Linked DNA regions of Homo sapiens. The protein of the gene in region 2 interacts with the protein of the main gene of each other region in a pairwise test. Each region holds a gene or a part of one and is shown on either strand. Other genes may lie near its edges.

Evidence for each region.
Region 1: the proteins of EMX1 (region 2) and PRDM4 interact in a two-hybrid assay, tested with the Homo sapiens proteins (one large-scale study listed by BioGRID and IntAct).
Region 3: the proteins of EMX1 (region 2) and GTF2A1L interact in a two-hybrid assay, tested with the Homo sapiens proteins (one large-scale study listed by BioGRID and IntAct).

The regions. Positions count from the first base shown.
Region 1 is NC_000012.12:107,751,013-107,754,667, reverse strand, and holds part of PRDM4 (PR domain zinc finger protein 4), read left to right. Parts: intron 1-558; coding exon 559-744; intron 745-2,458; coding exon 2,459-3,253; intron 3,254-3,655. UniProt on the Homo sapiens protein: May function as a transcription factor involved in cell differentiation.
Region 2 is NC_000002.12:72,923,948-72,927,602, reverse strand, and holds part of EMX1 (homeobox protein EMX1), read right to left. Parts: intron 3,295-3,655; coding exon 3,110-3,294; intron 1-3,109. UniProt on the Homo sapiens protein: Transcription factor, which in cooperation with EMX2, acts to generate the boundary between the roof and archipallium in the developing brain. May function in combinations with OTX1/2 to specify cell fates in the developing central nervous system.
Region 3 is NC_000002.12:48,673,281-48,676,935, forward strand, and holds part of GTF2A1L (TFIIA-alpha and beta-like factor), read left to right. Parts: intron 1-3,655. UniProt on the Homo sapiens protein: May function as a testis specific transcription factor. Binds DNA in conjunction with GTF2A2 and TBP (the TATA-binding protein) and together with GTF2A2, allows mRNA transcription.

The DNA.
Region 1 (3,655 bases), on a different chromosome or scaffold from region 2:
GGCATGGTGGCAATCCCCGCACTTTGGGAGGCTGAGGTGGGCAGATCACTTGAGGCCAGGAGTTCGAGACCAGCCTGGCCAACATGGTGAAACCCTGTCTCTAGCAAAAATACAAAAATTAGCTGGGTGTGGTGGTGTGTGCCTGTAATCCCAGCTACTCAGGAGGCTGAGGTAGGAGAATTGCTTGAACCCAGGAGGCCGAGATTGCAGTGAGCTGAGATCACACCACTGCACTCCAGCCTGGGCAACAAAGCAAGACTCCGTCTCAAATCAATCGATAAATTAATTAATTAAATATTTTTGTATTTAAGCGCAATACAGACAATTGGAGTATCAACTTGCCGGTTTAGAACTAACTTAAAAACTATCTTTGGGACTAAGACTACTTTCTTTAGGCTTATTTGTGGATATTTGCACATTATCTAAGGATGAAAAGGGCTAGTAGGTGAGATTTTTGCCCATGTGTAAAAACCTTTCTAAGAGTTTAGCCAGTGGTTGTAGTGAGAATTTTTAATTACCTATTTTCTTTTAACTGAGAAAAAAAATTTTGTTTTGTAGGCCTCCCAGTGGCAATTCCAAACCTGGGTCCCTCCCTGAGCTCTCTGCCTTCTGCTCTGTCTTTAATGCTACCAATGGGTATTGGGGATCGAGGGGTGATGTGTGGGTTACCTGAAAGAAACTACACCCTACCTCCACCACCTTACCCTCACCTGGAGAGCAGTTATTTCAGAACCATTCTACCTGGTAAGTGTTACAGTTACTTGAGATGTTAGAGAAAAAGAACGGCGCCAGCTTTTAAACTTTTATCCTGAAGATATGAATAACACTTTTTTCTGTTTGTCACTATTAGATATTAATCTCTAGGCAGGAAAAGTATCTTTGTTTATATTTATGTACTTTTCCTCTTAGAATGTGGCACATAACACATTAGTAATACAGTTTGACTAAGCTGAATTTCTTAATTGCACATAATTTTTCTTCTTTCTCCTCCAGTATCTCTTTCATTTGGTGTTTATAATTCTACAGCTATAATTTCAGTCAAGCACTATAGTGTCTTGTTATAGTGTCATGTTTTTTAAGTTCATTGAATTTTTATTCTGTTATAGGAGTATTATATGCTTATTGCGGAAAATTTAGCAAATAAGGGAAGGAACCACTCAGTCCCATCATCCATCTTTTTGGTGTACTTCCTTCCTGCCATTTGTTTTGGTGTATAGGTTTTTACCAATTTTCATAATTAAGACCACGGTTTCTTCTCTTGCTCTCTTTTTTCTTTTCTTTTTTTTTTTTTTCTTTTAATGGAGACGGAGTCTCAACTATTTTGCCCAGGCTGGACTGGAACTCCTGGACTCCAGTGATTCTCTCACCTCAGACTCTTGAGTAGCTTGGAATACAGGCACATGCCTGCCTTGAGACCATACCATATTTCATTTCTTTTTTATAAATAACTTTTTTAAAAAAAGAGATGGGGTTTTGGCATGTTGCCGAGGCTGGTCTCGAACTCCTGCGCTGAAGCCATCCGCCCACGTCAGCATCCCAAAGTGCCGGGATTACAGGCATGAGCCACTGTGCCCTGCCCAAGACCATACTTTCTATACGATTGTCTGTCTTTACTTTTTTCACTTTATCTTTTTCTCTGCTGTTACATGGGTATTTTCCTTTGCTGCTACGTGGTTTTCATAATTATCCTTTTTAATGATGCATTACTTTCTACTGAATGGGTATTTGATGGTTTATTATCTTTATTGTTGGACAGTTTGGTTTTTCCAGTTTTTATTACCATTGTAACTAATGCTCTTATGAACGTCTTTATGTATAATATTTACAAAATGGATTTAGAGAAGAGTACCTTAAGTGGAATTTCTTGTGCAAGAGGGTATTAACATTTTTGAGGCTCCTAATATATATGCTTCACAAAGAAGTTTTAGCAGTTTACATTCCCTCTGGCAGTTTAGTAAGTATCATTTCACCATATCCTCCCAAGCACAAGTGTTAATTTTTTTTTGTTTTAATAAAACAGGTACAATTGTGACTTGTATTAAATAGTTTGTGTTATGATAGTTTAATTATATTAAATTATATTTAATTAAGTTTTATTTTTCACATGGAAGATCTGTTTTTAAATCATTTTACCTTTTAATAATTAGGAGAGCAAATTTTACACCTTAGGACTCAGGAATTGCAACCATATGTATATTAAAAGCAGTGTTTTCGTTAGTGATTCCCAGTTAGCTTCAAAGGAACATAGTTAACTTTTTTAGGATTTTCGAGTTTTACAGGAAAAACTCAATTACGGTATATGTATGTTGCTATTTATAAAATAGTGTGTATCGATTAAATTAAAGAAGCAGGAGATTATTTGAACTTAGTTATGTTTGTAAGGAAATAGCGTCTAGTGCTTGGAATTCTTTAATAATGTACTAAAAGTCTCTGATATCTCATCTTTTCCTTTTCTCAGGCATTTTATCTTATTTAGCTGACAGACCACCTCCACAGTACATCCACCCTAACTCTATAAATGTTGATGGTAATACAGCATTATCTATCACCAATAACCCTTCAGCACTAGATCCCTATCAGTCCAATGGAAATGTTGGATTAGAACCAGGCATTGTTTCAATAGACTCTCGCTCTGTGAACACACATGGTGCCCAAAGTCTTCATCCCAGTGATGGCCATGAGGTGGCCTTGGACACAGCAATCACTATGGAGAACGTTTCTAGGGTTACCAGCCCAATTTCGACAGATGGAATGGCAGAGGAGCTTACGATGGACGGTGTTGCAGGCGAGCATTCCCAAATCCCAAATGGCTCCAGAAGTCATGAACCTCTGTCTGTGGATTCTGTGAGCAACAACCTTGCAGCAGACGCTGTAGGACATGGTGGTGTGATACCCATGCATGGGAATGGCCTGGAGCTCCCTGTGGTCATGGAGACAGACCACATTGCAAGTCGGGTCAATGGCATGTCTGACAGTGCCCTCAGTGACTCCATTCACACTGTGGCCATGAGCACCAACTCTGTAAGCGTGGCACTCTCTACCTCACACAACCTTGCCTCCCTAGAATCTGTTTCCCTCCATGAAGTTGGCCTCAGCCTAGAACCTGTGGCTGTCTCCTCCATCACCCAGGAGGTTGCTATGGGGACAGGTCATGTAGATGTATCTTCAGACAGTCTTTCTTTTGTATCACCTTCACTGCAAATGGAAGACTCCAATTCAAACAAGGAGAACATGGCAACCTTGTTTACAATTTGTGAGTGTGTTTAGCCTTTCTTTTTTGGAAATATTTGTAAAAAGGGCCACCATCCCTAACAAGTTAAGTCGTAAAGTTTGGCATTAAGGGAGTATAGAAAGCAACTAGACCTTGGAACTTTTCTTTGCCTTGGTATTGTCCTTTATATTAATGTGGTGCCTTTTCTTCAAGTAAGCCAAATGATATACATACATTTAGTTGGTTCTTAGAGCATCCTCCTGAAGAAATGAAATGTGAAGTAGTCATTTTTGTATTTTGCAGATAAGCTTAGCACATGCGGTAGTGTGTGCCTGTAGTCCCAGCTATTCTGGAGGCAGAGGCAGGAGGTTGCTTGAGCCCAGGAGTTTCAGGCTATAGTGTTCTGTGATCCCACCTGTGAATAGTCCCAGCTATTCTGGAGGC
Region 2 (3,655 bases):
ATTTTAAGATCTCCCTGAGAGACGCATACTGCTGGTCTACAGATTGATGTTTGGACATGGCAGATAATTAAGTAATAACAACAAAGTTTGATGCATATCATGATAGGCAGGGGTTGTGTGGTGAGCTCTGAGAATGTGGAGGAGGTAGTATACAGAAACACAGAGAAGTAGAATGTAGAGGAGTCACAGAAACTCAGCACTAGAAAAAACCCTGGAATTTGTGTCATTCAATCTCACAGATACAGAAACTGAGGCCCAGACCCAGAGAGAAGACAAAGCCAGAGCCAATAATAGATAACCATTACCAGACATATGAATATACTGTTTGTCAGTTGCGAAATAGCTCTATGGAGATGAAGTTTGAGATGAATGGTGGAAACACAGAAGGTAAAATAGATGACAAAGATAATGAACAAATGGGTAAATAGTTCTTATTGTTAGGAAGAACATATAACTAATAGAAAATCGGAAATATAAATTAGCCAGTTTTGGGGAGGCAGTTTAATGAGAGCAGACAGAAGTATATGGCTAGATGTAAAACAGCTACGGGGTGGGACAGATTAGAGAGCTCTGGAGACAGATACAGATATTAACAGTAGAAATGCATGGCAGGGGGGCTGTTGGGGGTGACTGATGCTTGACAAATAGCTGATAGCTGGAAATGACAGGTAAGCTTGCCTGGTAAGTACCAAGAGGCGGATAGAGAAGTAGCTAATTATATAGCCTGGCTCCGTATGATAAGTTATGAGGGCAACAGAAAGGCAATGTTGATGACGGAAACTGCATAAGGGAGGAAGAACGCTGGACTAAGAGGACACACAGGTTTGGATCTTCTTATGCTACTAATCTGACATACTACCTTAAAGGGAAGGGACTAGGGATGGGGATTAATATTATTTGAGCTCATATGAGGTACCTTTAATCATTAAACAACTATTTTCTCAATGAGGAAACCAGAGCTCAGAGAGGTTAAGTGACTTGCCCAGGGTTACACAGTAAGTTAGCAGGGAGGCAGGTATTTAAAATCGTGTTTGCCCACCTGGGAAGCTCTGTCCAAACCATCTCTCCATCTCAGGGTCTTCACCTGGAAGGACAGGCTGCCACGGCAGGTTCCCCAGGCTCAAACCTCCCCTCATTCTTTTTGTTGTACCATATGCAAAAAGCAGCTCATTTACAGACGGGAAGAAGATTAGCCCTGAGTTTTGATAGTTAATGAAGCAGGATACGTTTATGTTATTCTATCTGGTTTTGTTTTAAATATATGTTTGAAATGTCTCATAATAAAAATGAAAGAAACAATCAGTCCGTTTACTAACTGGCATTGTTAGGAGCAAATATTGACAGGCAGCTAGGTTCAGTTTGAAAGAGAGTTAATTAAAAATGCTCTCACTGAGCTAAAAAATTGAAAGTTTAAAAACAATGACATTATTTCAACAAGTGTTAATCTGTGGGTGGTAGGATTAAAAACCATTTTTGTTTTCTTACAGTTCTGCAATTAAAATTTAATAAATATTACTGTTTAAATGAAGTTAATTATAAACACCATTCTTAAACTGACACCTTGTTTCAAACAATAATTTTAAAACACTGCCAGGAGGGAAAAGGGAGTGTTATTTTATTAACTTATTTTTAAAAACACATCTTTCTTTGAAACGTTTTTAAAATTAACTCTTGTTTTGTAAGCTTTTTCCCTGCAGTTAGAACAGCCCAGCTAGTACATCTGAAAACGCACGGGTCCTGCCTCCGACCCGTGAGCGATTTGTAGATTAAGTGGGGCAGCAGACAGATATGACGACAATAGATGCCAAAATGCCACTGAAGGAGGAGAGGGTAAGGTCCGCCGAAGAAAGCTGCGGATGAAGTTTGGGTCTGGGCTCCCTCACTAAGCCCCCTTCCTACTCTGGCTGCTAAAGGGAGGCTCCGGCTGCCCCCCATGCCGGGCATCTTCTCACTGCCCGGGACTTGGGAGGGGACGGTGGTGTAGTAGGGTCGAGACTAGGAGGAAAGGGGAGCGGAAGGTGAAAAGTCAGCCGGGAGGTAGCTGGGAGACCGCGGAGCCGGCCTCTCGCAACTCTGGGAGCCGGCCGGCACGCAGAGACTGAAATCCACCTCCAGGGCAGCAGCTAGGCTGAGGGTCGCTGAGCCCCACTCCAACACGTCGGACCTGGGTGGACCAAGAGCTTATGCAGTGATCCCAGGCAGCATTTATTTATGGCAAAGTCTACTTACAATGAACCCAAATCCACCTCCCTATAACTTTCATCTAATTCTTTAATTTTTTCCCTTAAATTAACGATCAGTTACAAAAACACTACACGGTAATTGTTAATTTCACTCAGTTCAAGCCCAGGCGCCGTTGGAGTTTATTCCTTCTCCCATTCGACAGCCTTTCCAGTGATTCAGAGAAGCACCTGAGTACCCGGGGTCTATTTCCCACCAGGCCCAGGCCACTCAGATGCTCTGCGCGCGCACACCGTGGCTTCCACAGCCCTATCAGCCGGCCTGGGCCGGATCAGAGCAACCCTCGGGCCCCAAGCAGGGGCTGGCCCCTCCCTGGTTAAGCCCCTCTGTTGGTAGTCTGAGGACACCTGGGCTTTCTCCCCAGACGCTCCTGGCTGGTGGGCAGCCAAGGCCCCGCCAGTTTTGCCCAGGAACAGCAGCAAAGCCAGTGCGGACCGGCTCCCCGCAGGACTATGAGCGCCCCGACACAGTGGCGGGAAAAGGGCTGCAGGAATGCCAGGGCTGGAGCCAGCTCCAGTGGCCTCGGTGCTGCCTGCGCTGCCCGCTCCCGAGGCGACCCGCTTCCTCCAGGGAACCTGGTCCCCCCGTGAGGAGCTTTGGGAGCCGGGCTCGGGATACAGTTTGCATTTACTCTGCCTCCTGCTAGGTCTTTAGCGCTTGACAAAAGTCCTGCGGGCTCAGCAGGCTGCACGCAGTCTCGAGGAAGAGGCTCTAAAGACGGGCTTGACCGCAGCGCCGCGGGGAATGGGGGCCTTTTGGAACCCAGCAGGGCTGGGCTGGGGCGGGCTCAGGGCCTCTCCTGCACCCGCGCACCCTCACCTCCACCCGGGCTCCGGGCGCAGGGCAGGCCGCGACCGGGGGTGATTACCTGCGTCTCGGAGAGGCTGAGACTGCCGGCCAGCTGCTTCCGCTCGGCGCCCACCACGTAGTGGTTCTTCTCGAAGGCGCGCTCCAGCCGCAGCAGCTGCGAGGGCGAGAAGGCCGTGCGGATCCGCTTGGGCTTGCGTGCGAAGGGGCCGTGCAGAAGCAGCCCGTCCTGGGGCACGTCGCTGGCTGCGGCCCCGCCGCCGACGGCAACACACGCAGGTACAGACAGAGAGAAGGGGCGCCGTGAGCCGGGGCCCAACAGAGCCTGGCCTCGCGCCCTGCTCCCAAGCGCCCTGCCCTCTCCATTCCTTGACACGCACACACACGCCATTTCTCCCTTTGCCCTTTTGCCGCCCCTTCCCTAAGTCCACTCCCCTCCGCAACACCTCCCCGCACTCGAGAGCCACTCCGCGGGGGAACGCGGGGAATAACAGCTCTCCAGATCCCTCTGTTAAGCCAAGAGATGGGGCAGGCCGGACGAGGCGTGGACCCACATTCACAATGCCTGGGGCAGCGGAAGAGGCCAAGGGGTGGGGAAGAAAAGTCC
Region 3 (3,655 bases), about 24 Mb from region 2:
GGCACCTATAAAAAAGACAGATTAACAAGAGAAAATCATTCAAATTTATTTTAACGTACATTTTACTGACACAGGAAACTTTTTTTTTTTTTTTTTTTTTGAGATGGAGTCTGGCTCTGTCGCCCAGGCTGGAGTGTAGTGGCGTGATCTTGGCTCACTGCAAGCTCCGCCTCCCGGGTTCAAAGGATCTTCCTGCCTCAGCCTCCCAAGTAGCTGGGACTACAGGCGCCTGCCACCACGCCCGGATAATTTTTTGTATTTTTAGTAGAGATGGGGTTTCACCGTGTTAGCCAGGATGGTCTGGATCTGACTTCGTGATCTACCCACCTGGGAAGTGCTGGGATTATAGGTGTGAGCCACTGCACCCAGCCGACACAGGAATATTTAGAAATGAAGACCCAAAGAAACAGGGAAAACTATTTTTCTGGACAGTCATACCGAAGTATGATAGGAGGAAAAAAGGATATGATCTAATGACAATAAACTGGAGGAAACGTAGTAAGGCCTGTTTGTTCAGATTTTTGTGTCTCTGTGTCTTCAGAGATAAGGACACTTATTTTCCTTTGTGTATAGGGTAGGGACCTCTGTAATAAAGGTTTTATGACTTACTTTAAAGGAAGGTCAGATAATCCTTTTATGGCCTGGTTCAGGGGAGAAGGGTGAGGGCAAGGTCAGAAAGACTTTCCTGCTTCTGCCATTTTTTCAAATGTCAGGATGCCAGAACACATATGGGGTAATGTGTTCTGAACCCCATAGATACCTTTTTGCTGCTATGAATAATGCCTCTATGAACATTTGGGTACAGGTTTTTGCGTGGACATATGTTTTCATCTGTCTTGGCATATACTCAGGAGTTGAATTCCTGGGTCATGTGGTAACAGCTTAAGGAACTATTAGACTATTTTCCAAAGTGGCTGTACTATTTTACATTCTTATTAGCAGTGTTCGAGGGTTTCAATTTCTCCACATCCTGGCCAGCACTGGCCATAATCCGACTTTCTAATTCTAACCATTCTAATGAGTGTGAAATGGTATATCATTGCGGTTTTGATTTGTGTTTCCCTGATAACTAATGCGTATTTACATATTTAGCCTTTTTTTTTTCCAGTCACAATTTGAATATATTTAGGGGGAAACAAAGAATAATGTTTTGAATTGCTGTAAAAAGAAATCTTTTTCTCTGAAAATAAGGTCACTTTCTCCACTATAACATTTTATACAAATAGAAAACCGCAATTTAGATGCTGAATACAAATATAAACATAAGAAGGAATAGGGGATAGAAAAGGAACAGTTCTTAGTTTGAAACTTGTTTTAGTTTCTTATAAACAATATATTGCCTTCTATAAAAAAACATTATAAGGTACTTAATTATATATACATTCCATAAAGTCTCATGCAGAATTTTCTAGACCATTATGGATGTGGTATCCTTTGTTTGCCGCAATGTGGGAGATACCTTGTAATTAATTATGTAGTACTTTGTATTTTTGCGGTGTTTTATCATATATTATCTTTTGTTTCTTATAATAACCTTATGGAATAGATAGAGGTGATATTAAATATACACTGCTAACAAATCTAGTATCTGAGAACCCTTCTACTTAGTGAATATTTTAAGAACAGTGGTAAAAAATTAATGGAAAGCAGGGCATTGGGGAACCATTGAAACATTTTAAAAGGGGAGTGATGTAGTCAGAAGATAGCCAAAAGAATGTATCTAAAGGTCAAAGTGGGGTGAGGAACACTGTTATAGTGAATCTTTATGAAAGAAAAACTTTCCAGTGCTGGTCACTGGTTGATTTGTTTCAAATAGTATTGAATGTAACCCAACTCAAGTGAATTGAAAGAACTTTCAGTAGTCTCTTTTAGAGCTTTACTAATTCAGTGTGTTTTATGGGCTTAGCACGCTTTTGTTATGCCACTCTGCTAACTTACTCAGCTTATTTTAAAGGCAGGTAGTATCAGTTCCTCTGGGAAACTATTACAAATGCAGAATCCTGAGTCCCACGCCAGAGTACTGGATAAGAATGTACATTTTAACAAGACTCCAAAATGATTTGTATGGCCGTTAAATTTTGAGAAGCAGTGTTTGGTTTCTTTAGTATATTTTATTTGGATTTGATTAACAGATGGAATTTATCTTTAAAATTTAGAGATTAACAATTGGGGGGAAAACTTTGAAAATATAAACATGTACAGTGCAAAAGGGCTAAATGAAGGCCACTGGTTTACATACTGGGTGAGAATTAGTTAAATGGTATAGATATTTTGTTTCAGAGGCCTAGAGAATGTCTAAAATTAATATAAGGATTTAAATAATAAAGATATTATAGCGAAAATTAATGGTGAAATGAAACCTTTTACTACAGATGGAGGTGTTCTGTGCTACAAATAGGACACTATTTATAGTGGAATGTGAAACCATTTGAATATCCTATATCTTCGTTTGACAGTTTAGCAGACTTGCTTATAGCTGACTTTATCCCTTAGATGCTATACAATGATTAATTTCTAGGTGTGTAGCATGGTTTCTTTATATATACAGAGAGAGATATGTATATATGTGTATATATAGTCTCTTTATATGTATCTATATATCTCTCTATATAATAGTCTATATATATGTACATTTCCTTTGAATAGATAGTGCATACACATGGTTAAAAAATCAAAATACTGTAAAAAGGTATACAATGAAAAGTCTGGTTCACATTCCTTCATCATTTTTGCTTTCTATTAGTAGCTCCTTTTCCTGTTTTGAATGCAAATAAGTAGTTATATTAGTTTTCATCGAATTTCTTTATTCAAATACAAATACAAAAGATAGCATAAATAACACTATATTCTGTACCTTGCTTTTTTTCTTTAAACAACGTATCTGTCAGATCTTCCCATATGAGGAGGCTTTCTTTGTGATGATATTTTAATGGCTGTATAATATCCTATTGTAGGATTACTAAAATTCATTTAACCAATCCTCTACTGATGGATATTTGTGATTTTTCAGTCTTTTGATTTGAACCACTATGTATATAAGACATTTTCATAATGTGTGCAGATATATCTATTAAATCCCCAGAAATGGGATTCTGGGTCAAAGGGCAAATGTACGTGGTTAGGTATTCCCAAAATGCTCTCTAAGAGCATTTTGCCATTGTGAAAGATGAAAAGTGATACCTTGTTGGAATTTTTAACTTTCCATATGTTAAAGGGCCTTTTGTATTTACATTTTGTGAACTGTTTGTTCATAATCTTTGTCTATTTAAAAAATTGGATTATTTGGTCTTATATTTAGTGATCTCTAAGAGCTCAATATTATTTTGGAGAAAATGAGCTTTTTGTTATACACAGAAGTACTTTTTACTCAGTTATTTTCATTGCTTTTTCTTTTCAATATGTAGATTTTGGATCTGTCAATCTTTAATTTTATGTCTTCTGCATTTTGAGCCATGAATAAAAAGTTCTTTCTTACCTCAGAGTTTTAAAGGGAAGCTCATGTTTTCTTCAAGTATTTCATATATATCTATATATCTATATCTATATCTATATCATCTATATCTATATCTATATCTATATACTCAAGTCTTGATTCATTTGGTGTTTGTCTTGGTGTATAATGTAACATATGGTTTCAACTTTTTATTTTTTTTTT